Homo sapiens: one gene and its partners. The protein of the gene in region 1 purifies or fractionates together with the protein of each later gene. This does not show direct contact. Each region holds a gene or a part of one and is shown in the gene's direction. Other genes may lie near its edges.

Evidence for each region.
Region 2: the proteins of CDC14A (region 1) and MAP7D1 purify together in Homo sapiens (affinity purification with mass spectrometry, with the first as the bait; one large-scale study listed by BioGRID). This does not show direct contact.
Region 3: the proteins of CDC14A (region 1) and LUZP1 purify together in Homo sapiens (affinity purification with mass spectrometry, with the first as the bait; one large-scale study listed by BioGRID). This does not show direct contact.
Region 4: the proteins of CDC14A (region 1) and BMS1 purify together in Homo sapiens (affinity purification with mass spectrometry, with the first as the bait; one large-scale study listed by BioGRID). This does not show direct contact.
Region 5: the proteins of CDC14A (region 1) and POLDIP3 purify together in Homo sapiens (affinity purification with mass spectrometry, with the first as the bait; one large-scale study listed by BioGRID). This does not show direct contact.
Region 6: the proteins of CDC14A (region 1) and IFT172 purify together in Homo sapiens (affinity purification with mass spectrometry, with the first as the bait; one large-scale study listed by BioGRID). This does not show direct contact.
Region 7: the proteins of CDC14A (region 1) and RBM26 purify together in Homo sapiens (affinity purification with mass spectrometry, with the first as the bait; one large-scale study listed by BioGRID). This does not show direct contact.

The regions. Positions count from the first base shown.
Region 1 is NC_000001.11:100,516,399-100,521,197, forward strand, and holds the end of CDC14A (dual specificity protein phosphatase CDC14A), read left to right. Parts: intron 1-1,852; coding exon 1,853-1,882; 3' UTR 1,883-3,879; downstream 3,880-4,799. UniProt on the Homo sapiens protein: Dual-specificity phosphatase. Required for centrosome separation and productive cytokinesis during cell division. Dephosphorylates SIRT2 around early anaphase.
Region 2 is NC_000001.11:36,172,810-36,176,836, forward strand, and holds part of MAP7D1 (MAP7 domain-containing protein 1), read left to right. Parts: intron 1-554; coding exon 555-669; intron 670-2,088; coding exon 2,089-2,199; intron 2,200-3,389; coding exon 3,390-3,772; intron 3,773-3,887; coding exon 3,888-4,027. UniProt on the Homo sapiens protein: Microtubule-stabilizing protein involved in the control of cell motility and neurite outgrowth. Facilitate microtubule stabilization through the maintenance of acetylated stable microtubules.
Region 3 is NC_000001.11:23,162,002-23,166,028, reverse strand, and holds part of LUZP1 (leucine zipper protein 1), read left to right. Parts: intron 1-4,027.
Region 4 is NC_000010.11:42,796,032-42,800,058, forward strand, and holds part of BMS1 (ribosome biogenesis protein BMS1 homolog), read left to right. Parts: intron 1-442; coding exon 443-1,200; intron 1,201-1,390; coding exon 1,391-1,492; intron 1,493-2,436; coding exon 2,437-2,594; intron 2,595-4,027. UniProt on the Homo sapiens protein: GTPase required for the synthesis of 40S ribosomal subunits and for processing of pre-ribosomal RNA (pre-rRNA) at sites A0, A1, and A2.
Region 5 is NC_000022.11:42,597,423-42,601,449, reverse strand, and holds part of POLDIP3 (polymerase delta-interacting protein 3), read left to right. Parts: intron 1-1,656; coding exon 1,657-1,752; intron 1,753-4,027. UniProt on the Homo sapiens protein: Is involved in regulation of translation. Is preferentially associated with CBC-bound spliced mRNA-protein complexes during the pioneer round of mRNA translation. Contributes to enhanced translational efficiency of spliced over nonspliced mRNAs.
Region 6 is NC_000002.12:27,483,244-27,487,270, reverse strand, and holds part of IFT172 (intraflagellar transport protein 172 homolog), read left to right. Parts: intron 1-1,028; exon of another isoform or gene 1,029-1,112; intron 1,113-1,767; coding exon 1,768-1,911; intron 1,912-2,140; coding exon 2,141-2,253; intron 2,254-3,004; coding exon 3,005-3,044; intron 3,045-3,104; exon of another isoform or gene 3,105-3,243; intron 3,244-3,333; coding exon 3,334-3,399; intron 3,400-3,611; coding exon 3,612-3,691; intron 3,692-3,894; coding exon 3,895-3,982; intron 3,983-4,027. UniProt on the Homo sapiens protein: Required for the maintenance and formation of cilia. Plays an indirect role in hedgehog (Hh) signaling, cilia being required for all activity of the hedgehog pathway.
Region 7 is NC_000013.11:79,395,815-79,399,841, reverse strand, and holds part of RBM26 (RNA-binding protein 26), read left to right. Parts: intron 1-4,027. UniProt on the Homo sapiens protein: May be involved in the turnover of nuclear polyadenylated (pA+) RNA.

The DNA.
Region 1 (4,799 bases):
TTATTGATAATTGATGGAGCTTGCAAAAACAACTTTGTTCTAAGTTATATGCAGTTTGAAGAATTTCTGATTTCTGTTAGTGATAACATGCACAACTTTACTAATCGGAACAAAAGTAAAAGTTAAATATTCTCAAGAAAGCACTAGCTGAGCTACACACACACACATACACGCACAACATACCTTTGTGGCATTCTTATAGCTGGGGGACTTAACTGGCTCTGCCCTCTGACTGCTTGCCAGACTTAGAAGAAACCGAGAAAAAGCAGGTAGAAAAATGTTTATGCTCTAATTGCGAGTGTGGTAGCTGGCGTCCCTCAAGTGGAATGTATATGGGCTTCAAGGCTTTTGACCAACTTCACTGGACTTTCTTAGGGTCTTACCTCTTTTATTCGCACTGTGGGTTCAGGTATATTTATAGTATAGTGCTCTGATTCTTGATCATCTCACACCTATTTTGAAGTATTAGCATGAACCACATACAAGAAAGTCAATAGCCAAACCTTTTCCATTCTTCCTACAGCTCTTGAAACTGGCAGCCTTGAGAACCACCCATTTCCCTTACTACCTCTCACCTAAGCCTTTCCTGGTGCACGATGTTAACTTTACACTATGTATATTACTATTTAATGTCGACACCGCTGTCTTTTCATTTCACATCTGTTATGACATTGTGGCTTTCGCCCTTTGCGGTCAGGGACCATAACTCTTTGACATACTGTGTTAACAGGGACTTACTCAGGAACAGCCATTTGGCTGTTCATGGGGTGTAAAATTCACTGCAGTTTTGAAGCTGAGAAAAGATAGCTTGAATCCTTTTGTAAGTTCTTTGGAAAATGGACAGATTCTTTTTTACTGATAACCTATATCATCACCAAAATGGACCTGTCTTATAATTGACTAGACCTGTTAATGAAATGTTACAGACTAATTTGAGAAATAATTATTGGGTGGGAGAAAAGGGCATTTACTAGAAAATCAAGTAAACTTTGTTATCCTCAGGTATTTAATTGGAAGAATTGAGCAAAAAATTTGTTAATGTTTAGATTGATTTATGTTCCTTTTTCTAATCACTGTTTCCTGCTAAAAAAAATAACTGTTTGGCAAACTTTCTGTAACTCTCTATCTTTTCCTGGTTTATGTCTGTTGTCCCAGGCATTCTGATTACATATCCCAATCACAATCCTTTTATATGTTAGTATCTAATGTGATGTGGAAGAATTTGTATGGTTTACTTGAAAATTGCCTATTGTTTATTAAATTCCGACAGCAAGACTCTTCTGCATAAATGTTTTTGGGTCTTAAGATCAGATTTCAAGCTGGTAGTACTTCATTTCCCCTTAAGGGAAAGGATGTGTAAGATATTTATAAATTCAAGCATGCTTAAGGAATTTATTTAAATGGCTGCTAATTCTACTGCATTAGAAGCATGCCATTGATATGTACTGAATTAAATTTAAGGATATATCATCTCAAAGTATATTCTAGTAATCTTTAATTAGTTAAAAGTATCTTTTAATATTGTTAAGTAAAACTCATTAATTGTAGAAATGCTTAGAGATGAGTTTAGGCTACCTACCGATTTTTAAATTAAAACTTAATTTTTTAATCACTATAAATAAATTAGTAAACCTTTTAAAATATAAAGTTTTCTTACAATCACTTTGCGTAATTGAATATCTCATTCTTACCTAGCTAATGCTTTGTGTCTCCTGTCTTTTTGTTTCTGTTTTGGCTTAGTTTATTTCATTGATCTCTAAGCTGTCTTGTGTGGAAGGGAGAAGCTGCATGACTTGCTAGAAGTTTTACATGTGATGGAATTTAACCTCAGTTTATGTCTCTCCCTGCACAGTCCCTTCAGTCTGAATATGTTCATTACTAAGGCCTTGCCACTCCAGTGAAAGCTGTTCTTCTCTTAGACACAATTTCTTCATCTGGACGAGCAGTGGAGAGGGAAAGCAACTTCTTGCTGGAAGAATATCTCTGCCTTCTTACCTTAAATTAAAAAGAGCACTAAGATAACACCTTCAAGAGACTTGAAAACAGAAAACTGGTTAATGACTACTATAAATGCACTGAAACTATGTTTATGGAGATTTCCATACTTTTAAAGACAGTTTTAATGTTGAATTTGGTATTTTGAAGGGTTATTTTTAATGTATTTTGGTAATACATTTATTATTATATTTACATGTACAGTGTTACATTATATATGTATTGTGAACTTTAAAAGACTATTTTGATAAATTTATAAATATATAAAATTATGTAAAAACTACACTATATTTTGATTTAGATTTTCCTGCTGTTTGCTACCAAAAATTTGTATTTTAAATCTGTTTAGTTTTAGTATGGTTTTGTCTCTAATGAATAAATAATTCCTTCTTATTAAGAAGAAGTAAGGGAGAAAGTTTTTAGAAAGTGATTTTTATGCTCGCACTATAAATATGGCAGGTCAGTTCATTCTTTTGGGAAGTCAGTTTAGTTACACTGAGTTTATCCAAGTTTATCTCTACCAAGAGTATAATGGCATGGGATGGCTTATTTAGGACAATTCCCTTTCCTATTGTTTTTGTTGCTGAGCCAATTTGAGTTAGTTTTGCATCCTGGGGGGCTTTAAAATACAGCATGCAGTGAAAGATCAGAATTCACTGAATATTTCTTCTGAGAGCATGGTTTCATGGTTTTTCTCTATGAAATGACTCAATATTCCAAATGTTTTTTTTTCCTTCCTCCTTTCAAAAGAGTTCTTAACCCAATTAGGATATCCTGCTTTGGGTATGAGGTTGTTGTTGCCTGTAATCACACATGGTTTGACATCAGTTTTAAATCAATGGAGAGAAAAAACTGAAAAAGATGCTGCTAAGTAGTTCTCTGTATTAAAGGAGATATTTTTAAAACAGGGTACAACCCCCTGCTGCACACGCTAGCATATCTGGAACCTACTATGAAAATGAAAGGACCCTTATAGGTACTCACAGCCCTTTCATGTAAGTATGATCTGATATTTAGGTCTTCAGAAGCCTGTAGGTTTCATTTCTATGAGGAATCGAGGAGCGTTACATCCTGATATCCTTCCAGGCTGCTTAAGAATGGACTGCTTCGACACTGAAAGTGCTAGTTAAATGGATTCATATGAAGTGCTTTACTCCCAACCATTGAGTTATTTATAATGTATTTATTAGGGGAGGGTACCTTGAGTCTATTATATATGCTTCATCAAAACATCTTGTTCATGTTTTATGTTTTTAAAAAAGGCATTTGAATGAATGTTTGACTCAGGTTTGTTAAATTAACCTTCAGTAACTGCAGTACCAAAAATTACACTCAACTGATGAAAAAAACGAATTGTATGATTTAGGAATCAAAAACTAAAATAAGTGGAATTATGTATCTTTTCTAAAGTTAAAAAAGTAAAATATTTTATTATGAGTTATTATAAAAATTGGTTAATTGTATAGGAAGATGACAGTATTTTTTTCAAGTTATCATAAAAAGTAATTCAGATGACATTTGAGAAGTAGGGGAAAGGGAATCATGTTGACAGTTTTAGTTCTGTGAACACTAATTTGTGTGAAGCTATTAAAATGATTGTAAAGTTGACTACTGTAAATTTCCCATAATTATGTGTGTATATGTGTCATATGTATGTACATGTATATGTCTAAAAATTACTTTACACATGTGCCTACATAGACACACCAAGAAGTGGATGTATATAATATAGAAAGTATATAGCAAAGTAATTTTACTCTGATAATAAAAATTGTTTGACATGTATTTTGTTATGAATAGTTTATCTTCCAAAAGATATTTTGCTCTATTTTAAAGTGTAGAAGAATACACTGCTAATAAATAATAAAAGTTTTATTCAATTTACTTATTTTTTGGTGTTTATAATTTGAATTTTTGAGTTATCAATGTACTGAAGTCTCTTTATAATTTTATTTTTGGTTCAGTGTGGTCAGTGCCTTGAGTGTTTCAAGATCTCTATTCTGGATTTTAGTTTAGCTTTTATTGACTTTCTAGGTTGTGGCCATTGCCTGAAATACATGACAGTGAGCTCACAGAAACCTTATACTTTGAATTTCACAAAAATCATATAATGTTAGGTTCTTGCTTGCTTTCCCTTTATTTTTTTTACTGTCAATAAAATACTGATCCTGATCAGTGTTTTGGGTCCTGCTTAGTCATTTATGACTACTGATGACTATTGTGTGATTGATCACCAGTTCCTTTTGAAAAAGAATGCCATTTTTCCTAAATGAGAAATTATAGAAATCAGTTAGAAGAAACCTCACACCTGTTGGATCTATGCCCTGAAAAGTCAGTTTGGGAGGAAGAAGCTACACTATTTATTGGAGATATTTTATATAGTAAACTGGATCTCTTTGGGTTATGATGATTCTGAGGTTTTTTTTTCCTTAAATTTTTTTTTTTTTTTTTTTTAGAATGCAAAGGAAAGTTTGTGGGTGAGAAGGTAGTTTTACATTTGGAATTGGGATCTGCAAATAGCTGTCCTAACAACACTGCATGAAACAATTGGGGTACCAAGGTTTTCATAGGACCACATCTTAAAGAAGGAGATTTCTTATGAATTAATGAACCTGTTTCACAGGGCAGAAGGAAATCTTTTTTTGTACAGATTGGGTTTTTATGAAAAAGAAAGTAAAAAAAACAAATCAATTAGCTGGTTTCAGCAGATTTCTCACCTATTGAGTTTACCTGTTTCTTTTTTATCCTTAGATGTAAAATGATTTATAAATCTCAAAACACACCTGGGAAAACTATCTATGTGA
Region 2 (4,027 bases), about 64 Mb from region 1:
ACATTTGCTTCTGAATGTGCCACTGTAGGCCCCTGTAACTGTTTACTGTCAGTACCTGTGTTCGTACATGTACCCCATGTGTCTGTATGTATGCAGGTATGCATCTGTGTGAGCGTGCCTAGCTCTGTGACATGGGTAAAGCCCTAGCTTGAGTGCTGGTGAGGAAATGAAGGAAATGGCCACCTGGCCCTACCTGGGAGGGCCTCAGGCTAGAGGGAACACATAGCCCCAAGGTCAGGACCCTCAGTGCCTGAGATGTGGCCTTGCCTGGGAGCCCCAGGTAGGGGGAGTCCACCCAATCCTCAGAGAATCAACTCATGCACTCAGGAAATGACTCAGGAACAGTGAAAAGCTCCCCAAGAACAAGTTGAAAGGGATCTTGGTCCTTAATCATAGCAAGGATTTGGTAACCTTGGTTACCTGCAATGAGTCAGGAAAAGACTCCAAGGGAAGGGAGTGGGGGAGGCATTGTCACAGGAGGAAGAAGGGCCTCTATCCCAAATTCGATGAATGTTCTGAGTCCACATCTCTCTCTTCTCCCCACCTTCCCCCAGGAGCGCTATGAAGCAGCCATCCAACGGTCAGTGAAGAAGACGTGGGCCGAAATCCGGCAGCAGCGCTGGTCCTGGGCAGGGGCCCTGCACCACAGCTCTCCAGGACATAAGACCAGTGAGTAGGCTGGAGGGGCTGGGGAGTGGGTGGGCAAGGCTGGGATGGCAAGTAAGGGAAGGGAACAACTTCCCTACAAAAAGCTGGTGGCTCCCTGCAGCAGGTGTGCCTTGCTTTATGTGACTTGTGTCTTCTAGAATGGTCTGTAAGCCAAACTGTCCCTTCCCAAGGACTTCCACTATCAAATCAGAGATGGATTCTCTCCATTTGGTTTGCTCTTCAAACCTCTGTCATTTTAGGATTAGCCTTCTTTGCGCCTGTCAATTATTATTAGTTGTTGATACATAAAAGACTTTAATGACCTACAGACACTGGATCTTAAAGAAACTGTCACTCCTTGTCTCGGAAGGTAGATTTTTGTCTCTGAGTTTTCTCCGCGTAGGGCCACCATGGATTTTGGTCTGATTCTTTGCTGGCATGTATGTACCACTGTGCTTGGATGTCTTTATGCAATGGCAAGTTTCAGTATTTCTAGCTGTGTATCTTCTGTTTATGTGCTCCTGGACCCGTGCATTGTGTGTCTTAATATGTGTTTGCCTTGGCGTGTTTGTGACCTTGTGTACCTCAGTGAGGGCTCCTAAGTCAGACAGACTTGGGTTCCAGCTCTGGCACTTGCAGCGTAACCTTTAACTTCTCGAAGTCTCACTTTCTTCATCTATAAACTGGGGATAGTGATACTACTTGCCCCTGAGGTGGTAGATAGATGTTTGAAGGATCAAATGAGGTCACATGTGTGTGGTGCCCCACACAGTACCTGGCACATGGTAAGCATCAACAAATGTGAGCTGCTACAAATGTCATGATGAGGTTGCTTCGATCTGTTTGTGGCTTGTGTGCATCTGGGTCTGACACACTATCTGTTAGTGTTTGTGTCTCTGTCCCTGTGCATGTCTGCACACATGTGTGCATGCCGAAGTATCTGCCACTCTATATGCCTGTGTCTGCATGTCTTTTTGTGATTCTGGATGAACACGTGGATTTGTGCAAGTGACTGTGACTGTGTAGGTCCTGTTTAGGAGGGTTTTTGCATTTATCCCAGTACGGGGGTGTTGTATCCAAACGTCTTGGCTGGGCAGTGTCAGCAAGTGCTAATGCTGGGTGGTTATGGGGAGGGGTTGCAGTACTCAGCCGTAAGGAATGGCTTCCTTGGTCTGGCCAGGAAAGCTGTAGTTTCTCTAGTTTTACTCATCTCCTCCCTTTGTTCCTTCTCCGTCGGCTCCCCCAACCCAGGTTGTCTCTGGTCACCTACCCCCCCACCCTCCCTCTCCCAGGGCCAAGGCTGCCTCCTGCTCCTCATCCTAGCCTGCCCACTCCTCCCTCTCCCACCCCGCCCTCGGAGCATCCTGCATGGAAGGCCTCGGTGCCCCCCACTGGCTCCTGCCGGGCCCGGCCCTAATGCCGTGTCTTTTCCCCCTCCAGGTGGGAGCAGGTGCTCCGTGTCGGCAGTTAACCTGCCCAAACACGTGGACTCTATAATCAACAAGCGGCTCTCAAAGTCCTCTGCCACGCTCTGGAACTCCCCCAGTAGAAGTAAGAGAAGGCCCAGCCCTTCCCCCTCCAGAGCCCCTTGTAGCTCCCACCAAGCCTCCTCCAGAGCTCAGCAAGAACACCAGGTCCCTGGAGCCCTCACATACTCCAGGTCCCCATCCCCACTCTACCTTACCCAGGGCTCTGTGCCCCTCGGGGGAGCCGGCATATGGGTCTGGACCCTGAGGACAGAGGTTGCCCTGTAGGAGAGGAGAACAGAGACAAAGCACAATGCCGCAGAGGGCAGGAAGCCTGGCAGGAGCCTCAAGAGCAAGTTGGAGGTGGTGGCTGGGGGTGGGGACAGGCAGGCAGCCTTTTCTGCAACCACAGCCAGCTGGTCTGGGCCAACCTTAGCCAGGTGGCATTGTCCCCATGTGTCAGACTGGCCTGGGTGCTGTGGGGTGGAGGGGTCCCTCATTCTGGCTCCACCCTAGAGGGCCCATGCAATCCTGCCCTCTCTGTCTTCAGAGCCCCAGTCATGGCCTTGGCTGGTCCCAGAGTTGAGCCAACCAAGGTGGCATAGCCCCTGCATTCCCACCATGCCCTGGTGCTCATATGTGAAGGAGCCATGGTGGGAGTTATTTATAAGTTTCTCTTGCATTTGTTTGGCTGCTTTGTTGCCTAGCAACCAAATCAGCTGCTGTACCAACCCCACCTGACTGAGGCTTAAAAATAGCCCAGCAGCTGAGGGGACAGAGCAGGGTGGCCTAGGGCAGGCAGGCACCCTAGCAGCCTCTCCCTGGCACAGGACTGCTAAAAGCTGGGTCAGAGGAGCACAAGGACCCTCACTGTCCTGAATCCATGGGACAGCCTCGGCTGGGTCAGCCCTCTGACAGCAGGAGGGGCAAGACCTTACACTGGGACATGGCAGAGGGCAATTGGGTTTTCTTCCAATCCTGGATGGCTCCTTCCTATATGCGCCGTTCAGGGCCCCTTCACCTGGGGAGCGTTGTAGGCGGGGACCCTCATCCGATGCAGGATGTTGCCCTGGGAAGTGTCTGGTTGCCTGGGTCTGTAGTGGAAGTCCAGATCATAGGGAGGACAAGTGTGGCCCCGGTGTGATTGTGGGGAGAGGACTCCCGGGTGAGAAGCCTTGGCCTTGGCATGGGGATGGTGCCTGGTCTGCTCCCTTGCCTCTTCCTGCCTCCTACGGCCCCCACGGTGACCGGCTTCGCCTGGCCTTCTACCCCCAGATCGCAGCCTGCAGCTGAGCGCATGGGAGAGCAGCATCGTGGATCGTCTGATGACGCCCACTCTCTCCTTCCTTGCTCGGAGTCGCAGCGCGGTCACACTGCCCCGCAACGGCCGGGACCAGGGTAGGGGCTGCGACCCTGGGAGAGGCCCCACGTGGGGCCGGGCAGGGGCCAGCCTGGCGCGCGGGCCGCAACCCGACCGCACTCATCCCTCTGCAGCCGTGCCGGTGTGCCCGCGCTCGGCCTCCGCCAGCCCCCTGACGCCGTGCAGCGTCACCCGAAGCGTGCACCGCTGCGCCCCCGCCGGTGAGCGCGGGGAGCGCCGCAAGCCCAACGCCGGGGGCAGCCCCGCTCCGGTGCGCCGCCGGCCGGAGGCCTCGCCGGTGAGTGGCTCTACTGGCTCGAGTGGCCGCGCAGGTGGGGACAGGCAGCCTGGAACTGGGGTACGCGGGCGCTGCTGACCTCTACTCTCCTCTTCCGTTCCTCCTTCCCTGCCAGGTGCAGAAAAAGGAGAAGAAGGACAAGGAGCGGGAAAACGAGAAGGAGAAGAGTGCCCTAGCCCGGGAGCGCAGCCTCAAGAAGCGCCAGTCGCTGCCCGCCTCCCCACGTGCCCGCCTCTCTGCCAGCACCGCCTCTGA
Region 3 (4,027 bases), about 77 Mb from region 1:
AGGCTGTAGTAGTGTAGTAGTGGTATGTACTATATGCCTCTAGGTGCTTACTTATTTCTTATGATGAAAGCATTTCTGTTAAAATGGGGAGTACCTAAGTGATCATATATTTCATTTATGTAATGGAAGTTGATGGATAGCTAATGGCCCTTCCAGTGTAAAGCGGCCATCATTAAGGTAACATTATCAGAAACAGAATCATTTTTCATGTAATACAGCTTTTAGGGACAGTGTCAACTTATGAGTAAAGCATGCTGTTACAGGTAGGACCCGGATAGTCCAGGCTGAAAGATGTGGTATAAACTTTGATGCATATAATAGATGCATAGCAAATATTTGATGAGTGAATGAATGAATGTAATGAATGTATTCCCTTTTTTTTTGGAGTGCAGTGCTGTGATGATGTCTCACTGCATCCTCTACTGCCTGGGCTCAAGTGATTTTCCCACGTCAGCCTTCTGAGAAGCTGGGACCACAGGTGTGTGCCACCATGCCTGGCTAACTTTTTTTTTTATTTATAGAGATGAGGTTTCCCTGTGTTTCCCAGGCTGGTCTCCTGGAACTCCTGGGTTCAGGGGATCCTCCCATGTCAGCCTCCCAAAGTGTTGAGATTACAGGCATGAGCCATCATGCCCTGCCCGGAATGCATTCTTTAAAAAAAAAAAAAAAGCTTTATTGAGGTATAATTTACATACAATAAAATTCACCAATTTTAAGTGTACAGTTTGACAAATTTTGACACATGTATACAGTTGTATAATTACCACCACTGTGTTTATTTTTTTAAACTGTGTGTTATCTTTTAGGAATTGGGTAGCAGATTTATCCCTGGGAATGTTATGAGGTTTCTATGCTCAGATTCAATACTGTGAGATCAGAATGAATATTAGAGTGTTAATGTGCCAACTTGGGAGGAAATAGGAAAACCTTCGGTATTTAATGGTGAGGTAAATAGGAAGAATAAGGAGAGACATTTATTGGATTAGGGGAAAGATAAATAAATTCAGGAGGAAGTAGATTTTAGTTACTTTTAAGACAGAGGATACATTTTGGGGAAAAAGTTACCAAAAGATTTAAGGAGTTGAACTTTTTATTTTTTTTCTTTTGAAATGGTAGCTCCTGAAATATAAAACTTAACATCTTTGGCTGTGCTTAAGAAGCGCTTAACAAATTATGGTTGTTCAAATAATACTTAAGGGTGGGGATGGTGTAAAGTGGTTGAAGGCCTTGCCCTTCCACCTATGACAGAATATCCTTAGTGTTGATCTCTAACTTGTTTTAAGTAATATTCCACAAAGGGAAGAATACATTAGGTAGCAATTGTGGCTTGCGGGGAAGATTGTTTCTTCCTTTTCATAATTTCTCAAGTCACTGAACTTCTCCCAGTATGCTTTAGCTCAAGTCTCTGTCTCTTAGAAAATGCCTGGAACCTGTGCTAGTGAGCTTCTAGAAGAAGCCCCATTTCTACCTTCTCTTTATTTTTTGATTTTATCTTTATTCATTCTGTTTCTGTATGGTGACTGTGTTTTTTTTTTTTGAGACGGTGTCTCACTGTGTCACCCAGGCTGAAGTGCAGTGGTGTGATCTTGGCTCACTGCAAGCTCCGCCTCCCGGGTTCACGCCATTCTGCCTCAGCCTCCCGAGTAGCTGGGACTACAGGCACCCGCCACCATGCCCGGCTAATTTTTTGTATTTTTAGTAGAGATGGCATTTCACCGCGTTAGCCAGGATGGTCTCGATCTCCTGACCTCGTGATCCGCCCGCTTCGGCCTCCCAAAGTGCTGGGATTAGAGGCGTGAGCCACCGCGCCCAGCCGGTGACTATTTTATAAGCCCTTCTCTCACCCATGGATTTGTCTGAGAATGGAAACTTTTTTTTTTTGCTCTGCCCGAAGCAAAGGAATTCTTGTTAAATCCACCATTGGTCCTCCGTATACCATTAGGAAATAATAATTAAAATAACCCTTTAGATCTACTCAAAGGGGTGACTATAATAGTGTTCCCTCCTTGAGCGGGGGACATGCTAATCTTCTCTGTATTATTCCAGTTTTAGTATTTGTGCTGCAGAAGTGACTACTCTGTTCACCTTTGAAAAAATAATAACTCTATGAGGTAGTCATTATCCTTATTTTATAAATGAGGGAACTGAGCTCAGAGCAGTTAACTGCCAGAGCAAGTGAGGGGCAGACCATTGATTCGAGCTCAGGTATGATTGATGCTCAGGTTTGGGGTCTATGTCATTACACTCTCAGTTGTATGGGAGTGGAGGGTCAAGGGAAGAGCTTGAAAATACCATATTAAAATATGAGCCACAACATGACAAGCATTGCTAACCTTTTTAGGCATTGCTGTTGTCATCTATGACTTTCTTAATTTCTGGAGATTCCTCCTTATGTTCTAAGGAATTGATAGTTAATCCTTTAGTATTGCACAACTTCCTTCCCAGACTCAGCATTTTTTTTTTTTTTTTTTTTAAGAGACGGGATCTCACTCTTTCTCTCGATCTGGAGTATAGTGGCAGTCATAGCTCACAGCAGCCTTGAACTCCTGGGCTTAGGCAGTTCTCCTTCCTCAGCCTCCGATTAGCTGGGACTACAAGTGTGCACCACCATGCCCAGCTAATTAAGAAACATTTTTTTTTTTTTTGTAGAGATAGGGTTTTGCTTTGTTGCCCAGGCTGGTCTTGAACTCCTGGGCTCAAGCGATTCTCCCACCTTGGCCTCCCAGAGTGTTGGGATTACAAGCATGAGTGGCACCTGGCCCCAACATGCTTTTTTTTTTTTTTTTTTTTTGAGAGAGTCTCACCCTGTCACCCAGGCTGGAGTGAAGTGGTGTGATCTCGGCTCATTGCAACTTCCACCTCCCGGGTTCAAACGATTCTTCTCCCTCAGCCTCCCAAGTAGCTGGGAGTACAGGTGCCTGCCACTACACCCAGCTAATTTTTGTATTTTTAGTAGAGACAGGGTTTTACCATGTTGGCCAGGCTGGTCTCGAGCTGCTGACCTCGTGATCCGCCTGCCTCGGCCTCCAAAAGTGCTGGGATTACAGGTGTGAGCCACCGCACCCAGCCTTATTCTTTATTAACATGGTACTTTGTATCACTGGCTGTTTGAATTACTCCTCTGAAAGCTTCTACCCGGGTAATCTTTCATTCAAGACCTGCCGTATTTGCATGTGCCCCTTTATACCGTTTGTTTCTTTATTTTTACAAAAAAATTTAAAAATATGGACTGCTTTATGAATTAGCATGTCATCCTTGTGCAGGGCACATACTAATCTTCCCTGTACCATTCCAATTTTAGTATTTGTGTTGTGGAAGTGAGCACTCTATTCCTGTTTTTATCTGGACAAAATAGTATTTTAAAAATGTATTATGGGCTGGGCTAACATGGTGAAACCCCGTGGCTACTAAAAATACAAAAAATTAGCCAGGCATGGTGGCAGGCACCTGTAGTCCCAGCTACTCGGGAGGCTGAGGCAGGAGAATGGCGAGAACCCAGGAGGCAGAGCTTGCAGTGAGCCGAGATCACGCCACTGCACTCCAGCCTGGGCAACAGAGCGAGACTCCGTCTCAAAAAAAAAAAAAATAAAAGTATATTACGTTATTAAAAACTTTATGATTGAAGTATATAATACATATACAGAAAAATGCATGTAAAAGTGGAATTTGATGTTTTTTTCCCACAAACTGAATATACCCATGTAAGCAGCACCTAGATCTAGATCAAGAAACAGCGTTACCAGTACCTAGAAGCCCCTATCCAGTTCCCTTTCAGTTCCTGTCTCCCCTCTACCACCCAGGGTAATCACCATCCTGACTTCTGACAGCATAGATTATTTTGCTCTTTTTTTGTACTTTTGTAAAAATTGAATCATATAGTATATATTGTTTGTGGTCTGGCTCCTTTTATTTAACACTAATGTGACCGTGCAAAAATTTTTAGTGGTTTTTAGATTTGGAATAAAATTCAAATTTCAGCTTTTTTTTTTTTTTTTTTTTTTTTTTGAGACAGTCTCGTTCTGTCGCC
Region 4 (4,027 bases), on another chromosome or scaffold:
GTCTTTGAGCATTTCTCACTTTCTGACAGAACAAGAGGATCCAGGCTCATTTTGCCTTCTTTCTGCTTTGGGCCTGGACTTACCCATTTCTCTTAAGGATCATGTGTTTTTAGCTTAGAAATTAATCAGCTTTCCAAAAGATCTACAAAACAGTAACTTCTCTTTTGAGCAATTTTTTTCTAAAATTAGATTTTTGTTTTTTAAGGGTTATTCCTTTATTCTCTCTATAAGTTCTTTTGAAGTGTGGTGTTAGGGAACCATGCCCGAGTTTGCTTCTTAACTCTTCCAATGTTTATCAAATCATATTTTCCCTATGCTATGTCATCTTAAACAATTCCTTGACATTTTCTATTTCTTTGTATTTTCATTGACTATATTGCCATTTCTAGATTAGCTGATTAATGTACAAATTGAATTATTTTGTATTTCCTTGGTAATACAGGCTAATGATGCCAAAGGAGGAAAAACAAATGGACTTGAACACTGGTCGAATGCGTCGGAAAGCCATTTTCGGAGATGAAGATGAATCTGGAGATAGTGATGATGAAGAAGATGATGAAATGTCTGAAGATGACGGGTTGGAAAACGGCTCTAGTGATGAGGAAGCAGAAGAGGAGGAAAATGCTGAGATGACTGATCAGTATATGGCTGTTAAGGGCATCAAACGACGGAAACTTGAGTTGGAAGAAGACAGTGAAATGGATTTGCCAGCATTTGCTGACAGTGACGATGACCTTGAGAGGAGCTCAGCGGAAGAAGGGGAAGCGGAGGAAGCTGATGAAAGCAGTGAAGAAGAGGACTGCACTGCAGGAGAGAAGGGCATTTCAGGATCAAAGGCTGCTGGAGAAGGTAGTAAAGCAGGGCTGTCACCAGCTAATTGCCAGAGTGACCGTGTGAATCTGGAGAAGTCTTTGCTGATGAAGAAAGCAGCTCTCCCCACTTTCGATTCTGGGCATTGCACAGCTGAAGAGGTGTTTGCATCTGAAGATGAATCTGAAGAAAGCTCCTCACTCAGTGCAGAGGAAGAAGACTCAGAAAATGAAGAGGCTATTAGAAAAAAGCTTTCAAAGCCTTCTCAAGTGAGCAGTGGTCAGAAACTGGGGCCACAGAACTTCATTGATGAGACCAGTGATATAGAAAATTTACTCAAAGAGGAAGAAGATTACAAGGAAGAAAATAATGATTCCAAAGAAACGTCAGGTAAGCTTAAATGTAGTTGGTTGCTGCTATGAACTTGGCTCTCGAAATGGTAACCAAAGGAATGTCTACATTTAGGGGTCTGTTGATTCTGTGATTTTGTTAACTGTTGAAAAGCTGCATTGTGGATGGATCTCAAGGGAGGGGAGACACATGAATAAGCCTAACTGGAGGTTGGCATTGGTCGTTTCAGGTGCCCTCAAGTGGAAGGAAGACCTTTCCAGAAAGGCAGCTGAGGCCTTTCTGAGGCAGCAGCAAGCAGCTCCAAACCTCCGAAAGCTTATTTATGGGACAGGTAAAGAATTCTGGTTCAGAACTAGAAATGTTTTAGTTTCTCTGATTATTTAGATGAGGGAATTGGTTGGAGGATTCGGCTGGTATTGTTGACATCCATAATTGCTGTCCATCACATTTCATATTTGACAGATGTCTCTAATCATCAGCTTATGAGGACCACACATTGGTCTTATAAAGTAGACTTATGGGTTTGCTGTAAAACTTGATGCAAATACCGTCCATTGCATCATGTTATGTCCCCTATTTAAAAGTCCTTCATGAGAATTTTTTTGTAGATTAGTGCCAGAAAAATATTCCTGCCCATAAAAATATTTATTTTTTTCCTTTCTGAGAATGAGAACCCTGTATAACACATTTTGTTCTCCCTTTTGCCCTTGTCCTCTGATTTTATGCTTTACTAAACTTACCAATATGTTCTTTCTGGTAGAATTAATGCAAAAATAAATATATAGTGGTGAACTTTACATTGTGCTCCCTGGTTACTGCATGGTGAGATCAAGGCCACATGGTGAGACATTTGGGCTCAGCCCACTGAATTGGGAAGGTTGTTGTATACTGATTTTCATTCAGGTTTTGTCTAGGTACTCTTAGTGATGAGAGGCTCAACACTCTTTAGAGCTCTTCTTTAATAATCTAAAGCTCTGCCTTTAAATTCCCTTCCCTCCCTTCACCGCTAATATTCTCACTCCTCGGCCTCTTAGCTGCTCCCGTGCAGGAGCACAGGAGCCCCACACATGTAGAGCAATAGCTTCCTGGCTCTCTTCATCTGTGGCTGCCCTGCCCTCTCAATGCCTAACTCTTATGTGGCCATTGCCATACCCACCACAGACAGAGTCCCTCAGTTCCTGAGTTCAAAGACTCATGGCCTAACTGGTTGAAAATGATGAGTCCTCTAGGGCTGTAATTTTTGTTCTCACTTTTCTGCCATGGTGTGCTCTTTAGTGACAGAAGATAATGAAGAAGAAGATGATGATACTCTAGAAGAGCTTGGAGGGTTGTTTCGTGTCAACCAGCCTGACAGAGAGTGTAAGCACAAGGCTGACTCTTTGGACTGCTCCAGATTTCTTGTGGAGGCCCCCCATGACTGGGATTTAGAGGAGGTAAGTCTGGGTAGTACATTTGATTTATTAGAGAATTAGCGAATTGTTCTAGAATAAGATTATCTGATGTCAATATTGCTTACCTGTTGTTGGCTTCTTATTTTTACAGGATTACAGGTCATTCTCCCAGATATTGTAGTGGGCGCTTCATGCATCCTAAGCAGTAACATGTTCTGAGTTTAGTTAGACCATGTACATGGCCCACAGAGGACAGGTTCAGCTTTCAGTGTGGACAGTAGTGTGCATCTTTATTTTGAAACATCACACATAAGTTTTTATACATCAGATGTATTTTGTGTCTTATCACTAGGATATATGTAGCATCCCTGAGTTAACATTTATAGTTTCTGCTATTTGTAAGCATAGAGAAATCTGTGATACCTGTATATGTTCTTCCTGCAGCTTACCATTTTGTAGTCACACTGGAATTCATTCAGTACTCAAACTCACCACAGCTTACCCTCCTCTTAGACCTCTTCTCTTTCTCTCTCTCTCTCTTTAAGATATGGTCTTTCTCTGCAGCCCAGGCTGGAGTGTAGTGGCACAAGTGTATGGCTCAATGCAGCCACGACCTCCTGGGCTCAAGGGATCCTCCCACCTCAGCCTCCAGAGTAGCTGGGACTATAGGCACGAGCCACCAGGCCTGGCTAATTTTTGCATTTTTTGTAGAGATAATGTTTCACCATGTTGAGCTAGTTTCGAACTCTGGGTTCGAATGATCTTCCTGCCTTGGAACTTCCCAGAGTGCTGGGATTACAGGAGTGAGCCATCGCGCCAGCCCCTTTCTCTCTATTCTCTTCTGGAATGTTCTGATTTTCCAAAGGCTGCTTTCTTTTTGTCAATTCAGTTTGGCTTAGATGTCACTTCTCACAGAGGCCCAATTGCTATCATACTGTCTATTGTAATTCGCCAGATAACACTTAATGTACTTTATGAGATTTTATTTAACCATTTTTTTATGGTGAAATTTAATACAGATATATAAAACCACGTAAAAACAATTGTTCAGCCTAATGGGTTGCCAGAAGGTGAATATCCCTGTACTCAGCACTCAGGCTGGGAAATCAAGCTTTGCTGCTCAATTGTGACACCAGCCACAGTCCCCTTCCTCCCTGTAGAAGGAGGTGTAGTCCAGCCTCTTAAGGTGATGCTTTCCTTTTCTTCCTGGTTTCCTCCTCCATGCTTCCATAAGCATCATAGTTTACTTTTACTTGGTCTTCATTACTGTTTTTCAGTCTATCTTTTAACATTTTTAGTCAACAGTCTTTCCTTCCCATTTCTTTCTTTGGTTACATTTTATTTAATAAACCAAGTCTTTGGTCTGTAGAGTTTCTTGTATTCTGGATTTTGTGGATTGCTTTGCATCCCTCTGGAGTTTCCCAGGCCCTCCTGTATTTCCTGTGAATGGGTATGGAGCAATACCAATAGAACTT
Region 5 (4,027 bases), on another chromosome or scaffold:
CATAGGGGGCAGAGAGGCTAAAAAAAGTTTTGTTTGTTTTTTTTAATTTTTTTACGCTTTTTTTTTTTTTGTCTTTTGTTTTGTTTTTTTTTCCTTTTTCTGGAGAACGGGGTCTCGCTATATTGCCCAGGCAGGTCTCGAACTCCTGGGCTCAAGCTATCCTCCCGCCTCTTAGCCTCCCTGAGAGCTGGGATTACAGGTGTGAGCCACCGCGCCCGGCCTAATTTTTTTAAATAAAAGTTCTATGTGCTTAATATAGAAAACTTGCCAAAAAGTCCCTCAAGTTCCTATTCTCCAAAGCCAGTCACTGTTGAAATTTTGCCATAGTTCCTTACATGTACGCTTCTTTTTTTTTGATACAGGGTTTCACTCTGTCCCCCAGGCTGGAGTGCAGTGGTGCAGTCATGGCTCACTGCAGCCTTGAGTTTCTGGGCTCAAATGATCCTCCCACCTCAGCCTCCTGAGTAGCTGGGATCACAGGTGCATACCACCACATCTGGCTAATTTTTGTAGAGATGGAGTCTTGTCATGTTGCCCAGGCTGGTCTCGAACTCCTGGGTTCAATCGATCCTCCTGCCTCTGCCTCCCAAGTAGCTGGGATTACAAGCATGAGTCACCGCGCCTGGCTAATTTTGTATTTTTAGTAGAGACGGTGTTTCTCCATGTTGGTCAGGCTGATCTCGAACTCCTGACCTCAGGTAATTCGCCCACCTTGGCCTCCCAAAGTGCTGGGATTACAGGCGTGAGCCACTGTGCCCAGCCCCAGTCTGTTTTTTACTTAACTCATAGTTGTGGTTGTGGTTATATATTCTTTTTTTTTTTTTGAGACCGAGTCTCGCTCTGTCACTCAGACTGGAGTGCAGTGGCACGATCTCGGCTCACTGCAAGCTCCGCCTCCCGGGTTCACACCATTCTCCTGCCTCAGCCTCCCGAGTAGCTGGGACTACAGGCGCATGCCACCATGCCCGGCTCATTGTTTGTATTTTTCGTAGAGACGGGGTTTCACCATGTTAGCCAGGATGATCTCGATCTCCTGACCTCGTGATCCGCCCTCCTCGGCCTCCCAAAGTGCTGGGATGACAGGCTTGAGCCACTGAGCCCAGCCATGGTTATATTCTTATCCAATTTTGTATCATTCTTTTTTCACTTTGTAACTCAAGCATTTCTCTGTGACATTTCATATTTACTGTACATGTTTTAGTAACTGCAAAATCTATATAGTTGGCATTCCAGTTTTATTTAAACCATTTTCCTGTCATTTTCACTGTTAGAAATCCTTCTGCTGTGAACATCTTTGTAAATAAAGCTCTTTCTAGGGTTTGGATTTATTTCTGTAGGTCATATTAACAAGGATGGACTTTCCAAGCCAAAGGATATAAAGAAACATTTTAGGGACTCTTGGTACATACTGCCCACTGGGAAAAAGGGACTTCTGATGTATCTGGAAGTTGTAGGACTTTCACTGGGTCCTTGCTGACAGGGAGTTAGCCTGTGAAGACTTGGGCCCCAGTCTTTCCAGGCACCGTCACCCCTGTGCCCACTTCTCCTTGGTCCCTTTGTTTCTCCAGCAGCCATTTCCTTGCCATGCCTGTTCTAGATGTCTGTTGAGGGCCCAGATGCCACATTTGCTTATATTTCTTTATGTTATATTCTCAGAATTTATATGACCTGGATGAAGATGATGATGGTATAGCTTCCGTTCCTACTAAACAGATGAAGTTTGCAGCCTCAGGCGGCTTTCTCCACCACATGGTATGGCATTTCATGTTTTCTTACACTGCGTGTCTGATCAGGCAGGTGGGAGAGGTCGTGTTGAATAGAACCTGTTGTTTTTTTTGTTTTGAGACGACATCTCGCTCTTCTCCCCCAGGCTGCTGGAGTGCAATGGCGCAATCTTGGCTCACTGCAACCTCCGTCTCCTGGGTTCAAGCTATTATCCTGCCTCAGCCTCCCTAGTAGCTGGGATTACAGGCGCCTGCCGCCACGCCCAGCTAATTTTTGTATTTTTAGTAGAGATGAGGTTTCACCATGTTGGCCAGGCTGGTCTCAAACTCCTGACCTCAGGTGATCCGCACGCCTCGGCCTCCCAAGGTGCTGGGATTACAGGCGTAAGCCACTGCGCCCGGCGTGAATAGAGCCTTTCAATGCAGAAATATTTCTTTGTTTGGGCCGTAAGATTTTCAGAGCTGGAACTAGTCCATTCCCTTAGTTTTATAAACGCTGAGACACTGGGGTGCCTTCTGATTTGTTCAAGGTCCCACAGCAAGTGAAGTACAGGGCTGCAGCTCCTAGGTGCTGTGTTTGAGACACTATAGGGAAAGTGTGAGTGATCCCACAGTGGGGAGTCTGTGTTCTTTCCTTGGTGGCTGGCCATTCTGCATGCTTCGTAACCCTTTGTGGTCAGCAGCTCTGGCGCTGCTCTTGGAGTCTGGATTCCGTTGGTTAACATTAGCAGGAATACATCTCACCTGATCTGTGGGCTCTACCAGGTGCAGCCTGCATGCAGGGAAAGCTTGCTAGGCTAGAGTGTTGGTCAGACATCATGCAGAGAAGGAAAGAAAACAACATCTGGGATCATCAGGGAGGTCCATGCTGCTCAGCTCAGTGGTACAGCCAAGTGTCAGACAGGGAGGCCAGTGGGCTGCCTAGGTGGGTCCTTGTGGCAGCCACCTCTTTTGTTTTTCCTTCAGACGCTCAAAGACTCAGTTTTGGTTACTGTCCTGAGTATGTGGACCAGCCTCCTGGTTAGTAATTAAGAGAAATATGGGCCAGGTGCGGTGGCTCACGCCTGTAATCTCAACACTTTGGGAGGCAGAGGCGGGCAGATCACAAGGTCAGGAGATGGAAACCATCCTGGCTAGCACGGTGAAACCACGTCTCTACTAAAAAATACAAAAAAGTTCGGGCGTGGTGGCTCACGCCTGTAATCCCAGCACTTTCGGAGGCCGAGGTGGGTGGATCACGAAGTCAGGAGATCGAGACCATCCTGGCAAACATGGTGAAACCCCGTCTCTACTAAAAATACCAAAAAATTAGCCAGGCGTGGTGGTGTGCGCCTGTAGTCCCAGCTACTCTAGAGGCTGAGGCAGGAGAATGGCACGAACCCAGGAGGTGGAGCTTGCAGTGAGCCAAGAGGCGCCACTGCACTCCAGCCTGGGCGACAGAGCGAGACTCTGTCTCAAAAAAAAAAAAAAAAAAAATATCCGGGGTGTGGTGGCGGGCACCTGCAGTCCCAGCTACTCGGGAGGCTGAGGCAGGAGAATGGTGTGAACCTGGGAGGCAGAGCTTACAGTGAGCCGAGATTGTGCCACTGCACTCCAGCCTGGGCGACAGAGTGAGACTCTGTCTCAAAAAAAAAAGAAACATGAAGCTGGCTCGGCGTGGTGGCTCACGCCTGTAATCCCAGCACTTTGGGAGGCTGAGGTGGGCAGATTACCTGAGGTCAGGAGTTGGAGACCAGCTTGGCAACATGGTGAAATCCCGTCTCTACTAAAAATAAAAAATTAGCTGGGCATGATGGCGCGTGCCTGTAATCCCAGCTGCTCGGGAGGCTGAGGCAGGAGAATTGTTTGAACCCCGAGGTGGAGGTTGCAGTGAGCCAAGATTGCGCCACTGCACTCCAGCCTGGGTGACAGGGCGAGACTCCGTCTCAAAAAAAAAAAAAAAAAAGAGGTCGTGAAGCTGAATGATGCCAGTTTGTTTCTTTACAAAGGGACCAGGCCTTTCCAGTAATTAGACTGCTCAAGTCTGCTATCAAGGGAACTATCAGCTTGCTCAGTGAGTCTCTATCCCTATTTGATACCCTAATTGAATAAATGCCATATTTATACTCATGCGTCTTGTACCCTGTGAGATGGGTACTGTTGATTACCCTCGTTGATGGATGAGGGACAGGCATGGAGAGGTGAAATAAGCCTGTTCAACATCACCCAGCTGATGAGAAGCAGTGGATCTAGGAATGGAGCCCGAGCAGTCTCGCTCTCAGGGCCCTGTGTGGAGTCACTGTGCTGTCCCAGCTCTGGAGACG
Region 6 (4,027 bases), on another chromosome or scaffold:
GGACAATAGGAGGAAATGAGAACACAGGCCGGGCGTGGTGGCTCACGCCTGTAATCCCAGCACTTCAGGAGGCCAAGGTGAGTGGATCACTTGAGGTCAGGAGTTCAAGACCAGCCTGGGCAATACGGTGAAACCATGTCTCTACCAAAAATATAAAAAAATTAGCCAGGCATGGTAGCACACGCCTATAGCCTCAGCTACTTGGGAGGCTGAGGCAGGAGAATCGCTTGAGCCCAAGAAACAGAGGTTGCAGTGAACTGAGATTGTGACACTGCACTCCAGTCTGGGGGACAGAGTGAGACTCCGTCAAAAAAAAAAAAAGAAGGAAATTAGAACAAAGATAGTTGTGCTCTCTCCTCAGTTGGAGAAAAAAATAAAAAGACAGAGATTTGTGCTCATTGCTCAGCAAGCTGTCCATTGAATCTGTACTTTAAAAATTTCTCCGCCCTAATGGAAAAATTGGAAATGAAATCCTCCTTCAGTCTCTCAAAATAAGATGATGTCATGATGCAGGTAGGGCTGAATGCCCAGAATTGGGCAAAGCGATAAAGCAGGAGGATCAGCAAAGATTGATGAGGAGCCCTCAGGCCTTCTAACCTAATATAATGAAGAGTTAGAGGATCATAGTGATGGTGGTGTGGCTATTTTCTGGTTTGAGGATTTGCAGGAAAATAGACTTTTTACTTCTGACTTTGGAGATAGGTGAGTTTGGAGTGTAAAGTGTCAATGTTTGAAGCCAGAACTCTAGTGTCCAAATAATTAAACAATTGGGGCAGAAGAAAAGCAGAATAAAATGTTTTGTTTTCAAGGAAGGAAACCCTTAGTAGCAGAGCTAGTCCCTTAGGACCAGAGCTAGTGTTGGAAGGGTCAGATCTGGTCAGAATAATTCACCTGGAGATAACTTCTAACTTGGGTTTCTCTGAAGTGGGTAGTTAAGAAGAAAAGAAAGTGGGATTATTCGTCCTGAGTCTCAACTCGTACTCGCCCATCCTGAACTCTCACTGTCTCTCCCTTTCCTTTCAAATAAGCCCAAACTCCTTTGCCTGGCTTCAAAGACTTCCTGAGCTGGCCTGTTTTTCCTGCCTTACCCCGTCTATTCTACTATTTATAAGGTATAATAGTTTCAAATAAACTAAATTACTGTTTCTTGTCCAGAATTTGCCTTTGCTCATTGCCATTCCTCCCATCTCAGATAACTTCCTACTCAACTGCATTCATTCTTCAAAGCTTAATTTTGATAATTTAAGCATAAAATTCTCTCAGGCTTCTCCAAACTATTGTAGTACTTTATACATACTTTAATAGGACTTTTCTATTTTGCACCATCTTATTAGACGTGGAGGCAGGATCTATGGTTTGCTTTTTGTCTCTCTCTCAGCCCCTGGCCAAGTGCCTTGATCAATAAGGTGCTAAAAAAATATTAATTGAATGAATGGCTAATGACCAAAACTTACCAGACTAATTGAATTTATTTCAGTAGCAGACCTGGAAACGAGGAGGCCGTTGCAGGGATTCATTGATACAGTTGACTTAGCACCCTGCCTCTTAGTGCATTTGCATATGAGTCTCTAGAAGCCTGTTGTTCTCACAGTCCAGGATCTGAAGGCCTTGGAGACCAGCATGGGCCACAGGCATCTCTTTGTTTTGAGGATAGAACCGTGACAGGAAGAAAATTGACCAGTATTACACTAGAATTAATGAAGCTAGAAATGCTTTTGGCATTCTAGACCAGCACATGGGTTTGTTTTTACCCCTTTGCCTCTACAGGATGGAGCTGCAAAGGTGACCTGCATGGCTTGGTCCCAGAACAATGCCAAATTTGCTGTCTGCACAGTGGACCGAGTGGTCTTGCTGTATGATGAACATGGAGAACGGAGAGATAAATTCTCCACCAAACCAGCTGACATGAAGGTAAACAGTGTATTCATGTGTACCTTATTTAACCTATTGATGGGGTCTCACAACTTGAAAGACGTAGTCTGCCTTCTAGCCATCAGCATAGGAAATGGCATACCCCACCTTTTTCTCAGTATAAATCCTCAAGCTCCCTTAGGAGCACACATATGCCTTTTTTTCTCTTTTCTCTTTCATGTGTACTCATTACTTCTTTTTCTTTCTTTTTTTTTTTTTAAACTCTTAGTATGGCAGGAAGAGCTATATGGTGAAGGGCATGGCTTTTTCTCCTGATTCCACTAAAATTGCCATAGGACAGACTGACAACATCATCTATGTCTACAAGATTGGAGAAGATTGGTGAGGATAGAGACTGGGAGATGGGATGGCCCAGGAAAGAAGGGGAAGGCAAGAGAAATGCCTCACTGGGGAGGGGAAATACAGGGGATGAGAAGCCAAGCTTGGCCATTGAAGGCAGAGACTTTCTGGAGTCTGTTTTTGCTTTTCTGCCTTCACCTGTCCCACGTGTTCTTCAATCCCATCCCTGGAGGAAACAGTCCAAGGTCAACAGGAGGCCCTGTGAGATCCTGGAAGCCCAGAGTGATGTCACATCTTTGTTATTGTTCTGAAGCTGCTTAGGCTCCCTCATATACCTCCTTTCAGGGCTCCTACAGAGTAGTCAGAAATACTACTGGGCCAGGGAAGAAATCTGCTCTTTCTTCTCTTCCCTCAGCATCATTTTTGGCAATTTGTTTATGGAAGTGGTATTTATTTATTTATTTATTTTGAGATAGAGTCTCACTCTGTCACCCAGGCTGGAGTGCAGTGGCGCGATTGTGGCTCACTGCAAGCTCCTCCTCCCAGGTTCACGCAATTCTCCTGCCTCAGCCTCCCGAGTAGCTGGGACTACAGGCGCCCACCACCACACCCGGCTAATTTTTTGTATTTTTAGTAGAGACGGGGTTTCACTGTGTTAGCCAGGATGGTCTCGATCTCCTGACCTCATGATCCTCCCGCCTCGGCCTCCCAAAGTGCTGGGATTACAGGCATGAGCCACCACGCCCGGCCTGGAAGTGGTTTTTAATATGTTTCCCCTTCTTTTGTTTGGCAGGGGTGACAAGAAAGTCATCTGCAACAAGTTCATCCAGACGGTAAAGTTCAGACCAGTCCCTGGAACCTTAGGATGAACAAACATATATCAGTATATCTACTTATAAATACAGCCAGGAGTTGCATTTCTAACATCTGAATGTGACTTTTCCTACTGCAAGGATGGTGCTTCATGGCTGTTCATGGTCATCTGCTGTCTTCCTTAGAGCCCTGCTGTGTCCTTCCCTATAGGAGATTGAGGTGGTGGTGTGTGGTGGGGTGTTGAAGTTGTTATAAAAGTGCTGGCCCACACAGATGGGGTTATCCTTTTCATTGTTTCCTTCCACGCAGAGTGCTGTCACTTGTCTGCAATGGCCGGCAGAATACATCATTGTCTTTGGACTGGCTGAAGGGAAGGTAAAAGAGGGAAGGGAAACACAAGAGAGGGGGTGGTAGGGATAATGGTTCTGGAGAGAGGAATATGGTTCATCCTCTTTCTTAGGATCAAGTTGCGTACTGGGGAGAATGCATAGGGACCAGTTTTGTGGGACAGTTTTTCCTTTTTTTCTTAGGGCCTAGTTAAATATAAAATAGCCTAACCATACTTGTATCAATTTTTCCATTTTCAGGTTCGTTTAGCAAACACCAAAACTAATAAATCATCTACCATCTATGGGACAGAGTCTTACGTGGTGTCCCTGACAACAAAGTGAGTAAAGAGGAGTAGTATCACTAGAGTCTGGAAGTGTTAGGAAAATGCTGTGGGGAAGTCTGGACTGCAAGACCATAGTATGAAAGGCAGGAGAACTGGTAGCAGGAAGCACAGACAAGGTTGTGTTTGACAGAGAAAGGGGCTTTCTTGGTGAGATAAAATAGTCTCTTCCTGTATTTCTCTCCTTTCTCCTTTTTTAGTTGCTCTGGGAAAGGAATTCTCTCTGGTCATGCAGATGGTACCATCGTTAGGTATTTCTTTGATGATGAAGGCTCTGGAGAGTCACAGGTATGAATAAAGAATGTTGTGGGAGGCTTGGATTGCTTGAGTCCA
Region 7 (4,027 bases), on another chromosome or scaffold:
GCTGGCTTGAAATTTTTTGGCTTCTCCTTCCTCCCATTCACTTAGTCATGAGGTTCTCTCTTAATAATCCTTACTGACATTGCTTAGTAGGGGGCTCACACTCCGTATCTAAATGATTGCAGTTTGCTTCCTAACAAATCTGTTTTTATCTCTAGGCCTTTCTCCCTTCCAGTTCTTCTGACATGGATGCCCAGCCTTGTTTGTATCCCATTGCTTGATCAAAACCTTCAGCATTCCCAGATAATAAATTGCATACTTTTTAGCTTGCCTTTAAGAAAGCTAATGATTTGCTTTAAATTATCTTTTCCATTTATATCTTTCTACTTTTTATATGAGTCTTAATTTCAGCAAAGCTGAACTTTCGTGATTCACTGTCATTTTTTTTTATTGTTTCTTTTTTCTGAAACTTTACTGTTTCTTTTTTCTGAAGATTAGTAGTGGGCACCATTTATTGAGTGCTTACTATTAATATATGTTAATTGTTATACATTCATTGTGTGCAAGATAGGTGTTAGGAAGATGAATTAGCATACTTTATTCATAGCTAGTAAGTGATGGAGACAGGATCCAAAAGAAGACATTTTGATTCCAGAGCCTTGTTGTATTATGGTGTACTGTCTTTATATCCTTTCTTTGTGTTGAAGTCAAAGATCAAGTGTGATTCCAGTTCTTCCAGAAAGCTGCCTATGATCTATCCAGCTGGGTGAAGTGACTCCTCCCACCATGACTCCTCTCTCTCAGCACTGGTTTCAGTTGTCATGACACTCATCACTTGTACATTAAATTATTTAGTCGTGTTATTTTAGCTTTATTATTAGAGTCTCAGGCCCTTGAAAGCAGACTCCAGCTCTTAAGATTTAACTATGTTCCTGTTCATTATATACATTATCTAGCACAATGCTTTGTGTGTAGTATATACCTGATTATTAAATGCGTTAGTTGAAATTTCAAGTTTGTGTACCTAAAACCAAGGGAAGAGGCAATAATTTGGGTAAAACTATAGAATCTACCCAACTTCAGAACAGCAGATATGTGAGCTATTTGAAGATTAAGTAGTCTTTGGGTCTACTTCTTTCCATTTTTACTCCTAGCATCTTCAGTTTAGGTAAAGCTTAAGTTCAGATTTTTTTTTTCTTTGAGAGGGAAAGGTCATTGAAGTATATTAATATTTACTTGTTAAAGTATTATTGAATGTTGCTATGTGCAAGATTGCTGTCTCCATAGAGCTGCACATAAAAGAATTATAGTAATTCTAACCTGATGAATTTTATAGCTGGTAGAAGAGTTAATAGTCTATAATTATTGGTTAAAACATTTTTCTTTATTTCTTTATCCCCTTAACTTGTGATAAATTGACTTTCATAATCACATTTTGCTGCTGCAATCTTATTTGGCCTTTCCATCTGAATGCTGAGTGGTTAAAATGCATTTAGCACTTTTTTTCTGTATGTTTTAGCACTTCCTTATCTTTGGCTGACAGTGCTTCTCAAAATTATTTTACATGCTTAAACTGAGAGATAGGGACTGTATTATGAGCAAAATGTAAAATATTCCCATGTTAGTTATGTACATAACCTAAGCTTGAGAATGACTAACTGAAGCTTGAGCTAAATAGCTTGTAAGATTTTTTTCCCTCTTCTTGCTTCCTTTGTGCCAGAGAAAAGAATGAATGAGAGAAATGAATGAATGGTAAGCTGTTCCTACTAGACTTACTCATTACTCTCCTACTACTTTATTTCTGTGGAAAAAGTCTTTTCAATTTACATGCAGTAACTTTGAAATAGGTAAAAGTTTATTTTTAACTTAGGGTTTTATTAGTATCTTTTATGTGTGTATTAAATAATGGAGTAAGTTCAAGATCTGTTACTTAGTGATTCTTCTTGAGATATTTTACCTATGTAGAAGCATTTCTTTTGTTATTTTTTTCTGCGACATGTTTTACAAATGCTTTTAAAATTTTGATTTTCTGATTTTTATTGTTAGTATATAGAAATATATTTGTATATTGACGTTGAATTCTGAAATTTTACCAAGTGTACTTATTCTAGTAGCTATTTTATAGATTCTGTGGAATTTTCTTCTACCAATCTCATCATCTATGAGTAATGACAATTTTCTGATTTTTATACCTTCATTTCTTTTTTTTTTTTTTTTTTTTTTTGAGATGGAGTCTGGTTTGTTGCCCAGGCTGGATTGCAGTGGCGTGATCTCAGCTCACTGCAGCCTCCACCTCCCGGGTTCACGCGATTCTCCTGCCTCAGTCTTCCGAGTAACTGAGACTACAGGCACGTGCCACCACACCCGGCTAACTTTTTTTTTTCATTTTTAGTAGAGACGACAGGGTTTCATCGTGTTAGCCAGGATGGTCTCGATCTCCTGACCTCATGATCCGCCTGCCTCAACCTCCCAATATACCTTCATTTCTTATCATGCTGGCTAGAAGCAATAGTACAATGTTGAAGTAGTAAGAGTGGACGTCCATGTCTTGTTTCCAGTCTAAAGGGAAAGAGATTAAATGTTTCAGTATTACTGATATTGGCTCTAGGTTTTTAGTAACTGCCTTTTACCAGATTGAGAATTTTTTTCTTAATTTGCTTAATATTTTTGTCATAAAAGGTTATTGTTAACTTGGCTAACTTCTTATTTCTTTTTCTTTTTTTTGAGACAGAGTCTTATTCTCTCACCCAGGCTGGAGTGCAGTGGTGCAATCTCGACTCACTGCAACCTCCACCTCCCAGGTTCAAACGATTCTCAGGCCTCAGCCTCCTGAGTAGGTGGGACTACAGGCGTGCGCCACCACCCTTGGCTAATTTTTCGTATTTTTAGTAGAGGTGGGGTTTCACCATGTTGGCCAGGCTGGTCCTGAACTCCTGACCTCAGGTGATCTGCCTGCCTCAGCCTCCCAGTGCTAGGATTACTGGCATGAGCCATTGTGCCTGGCCAGTTCTTTTTCTCCATCTGTTGAGACGATCATACAGATTTTCCCGTTTTTTTGTTAATATGGTGTATTACATGGATTGCTTTTCAAATATTAAGCCAATCTTGTATTCCTGAGGTAAACCAGGCTTGGTCATGTTATATTATGGTAGATTTGATAATATTAAAACAAGTGGAAGTATTCTATCCTCCGTTTTTCTGAAAAAATTTATTTAGGGTTCTATTTTTTTTTCCTTAAAATTTTTGGGATCCTTCACCAGTGAAGCCATCTGGGACTGAAATTTTTGTTGTGAGGATTTTTTGGTTATAAAATCAATGTCTTTAATAGGTATAGGGCTGTGTAGGTATTTCTGTTTCTTCTTGTGTCACTCTTGACAATTTATGATATTCAAAGATTTTTCTGAAGTTGCCAAATTTATTGACATTGCATTGTAACCTTACTATTCGTTTAATAACTAGGATTTATTGTGATGCTTCCTTTCCCCTTTTTAATTATACCTTTGGTTGCTCTTTTATTTTCTTAATCAATTTTGCTATTAGTTTTTCAGTTTTATTCAGCTTATTAAAGAACAATGTTAACTTTTTTTTCTATTTTCTATTTCAGTGTTTTATTTTTATGATTCCCTTTTAAAACACTTTGGGTTTAATTTGCTGTCCTTTTCCTCTTAAAGTGGAACCTAGGTCGTTGGTTTTACACCTTTCTTTCAGTTATTTTATGATATTGTTCCATTGCCACCGTCCTCTGTTGTTTCTGGTGAGAAATCTGCTGTCATTTGAGTCTTTGTTCTCCTGAATGTAATGTGTCTGTTTTCCCCCTTTGACTACCTTTAAGATTCAATTCCTTTTATTTGGTCAGCAGTTTGACGATGATAGGCTTGTCTGTCTGTGTTTATGTGTTTTATCCTTAGATTTGCCAATTTGGATCTGTGTTTTGGGTCTTTCATCGGTTTTGGAAAGTTCATTGGTCACTATGTCTTCAAAATTTTTCTGCCCCATTTTTTTTTCCTCTTTTTCTGAGACTTTATATTTAGTTCCTTGTATGTTAGATTATATGATATTATCCTGAAAATCTCATGTATGTTTTAAAAAA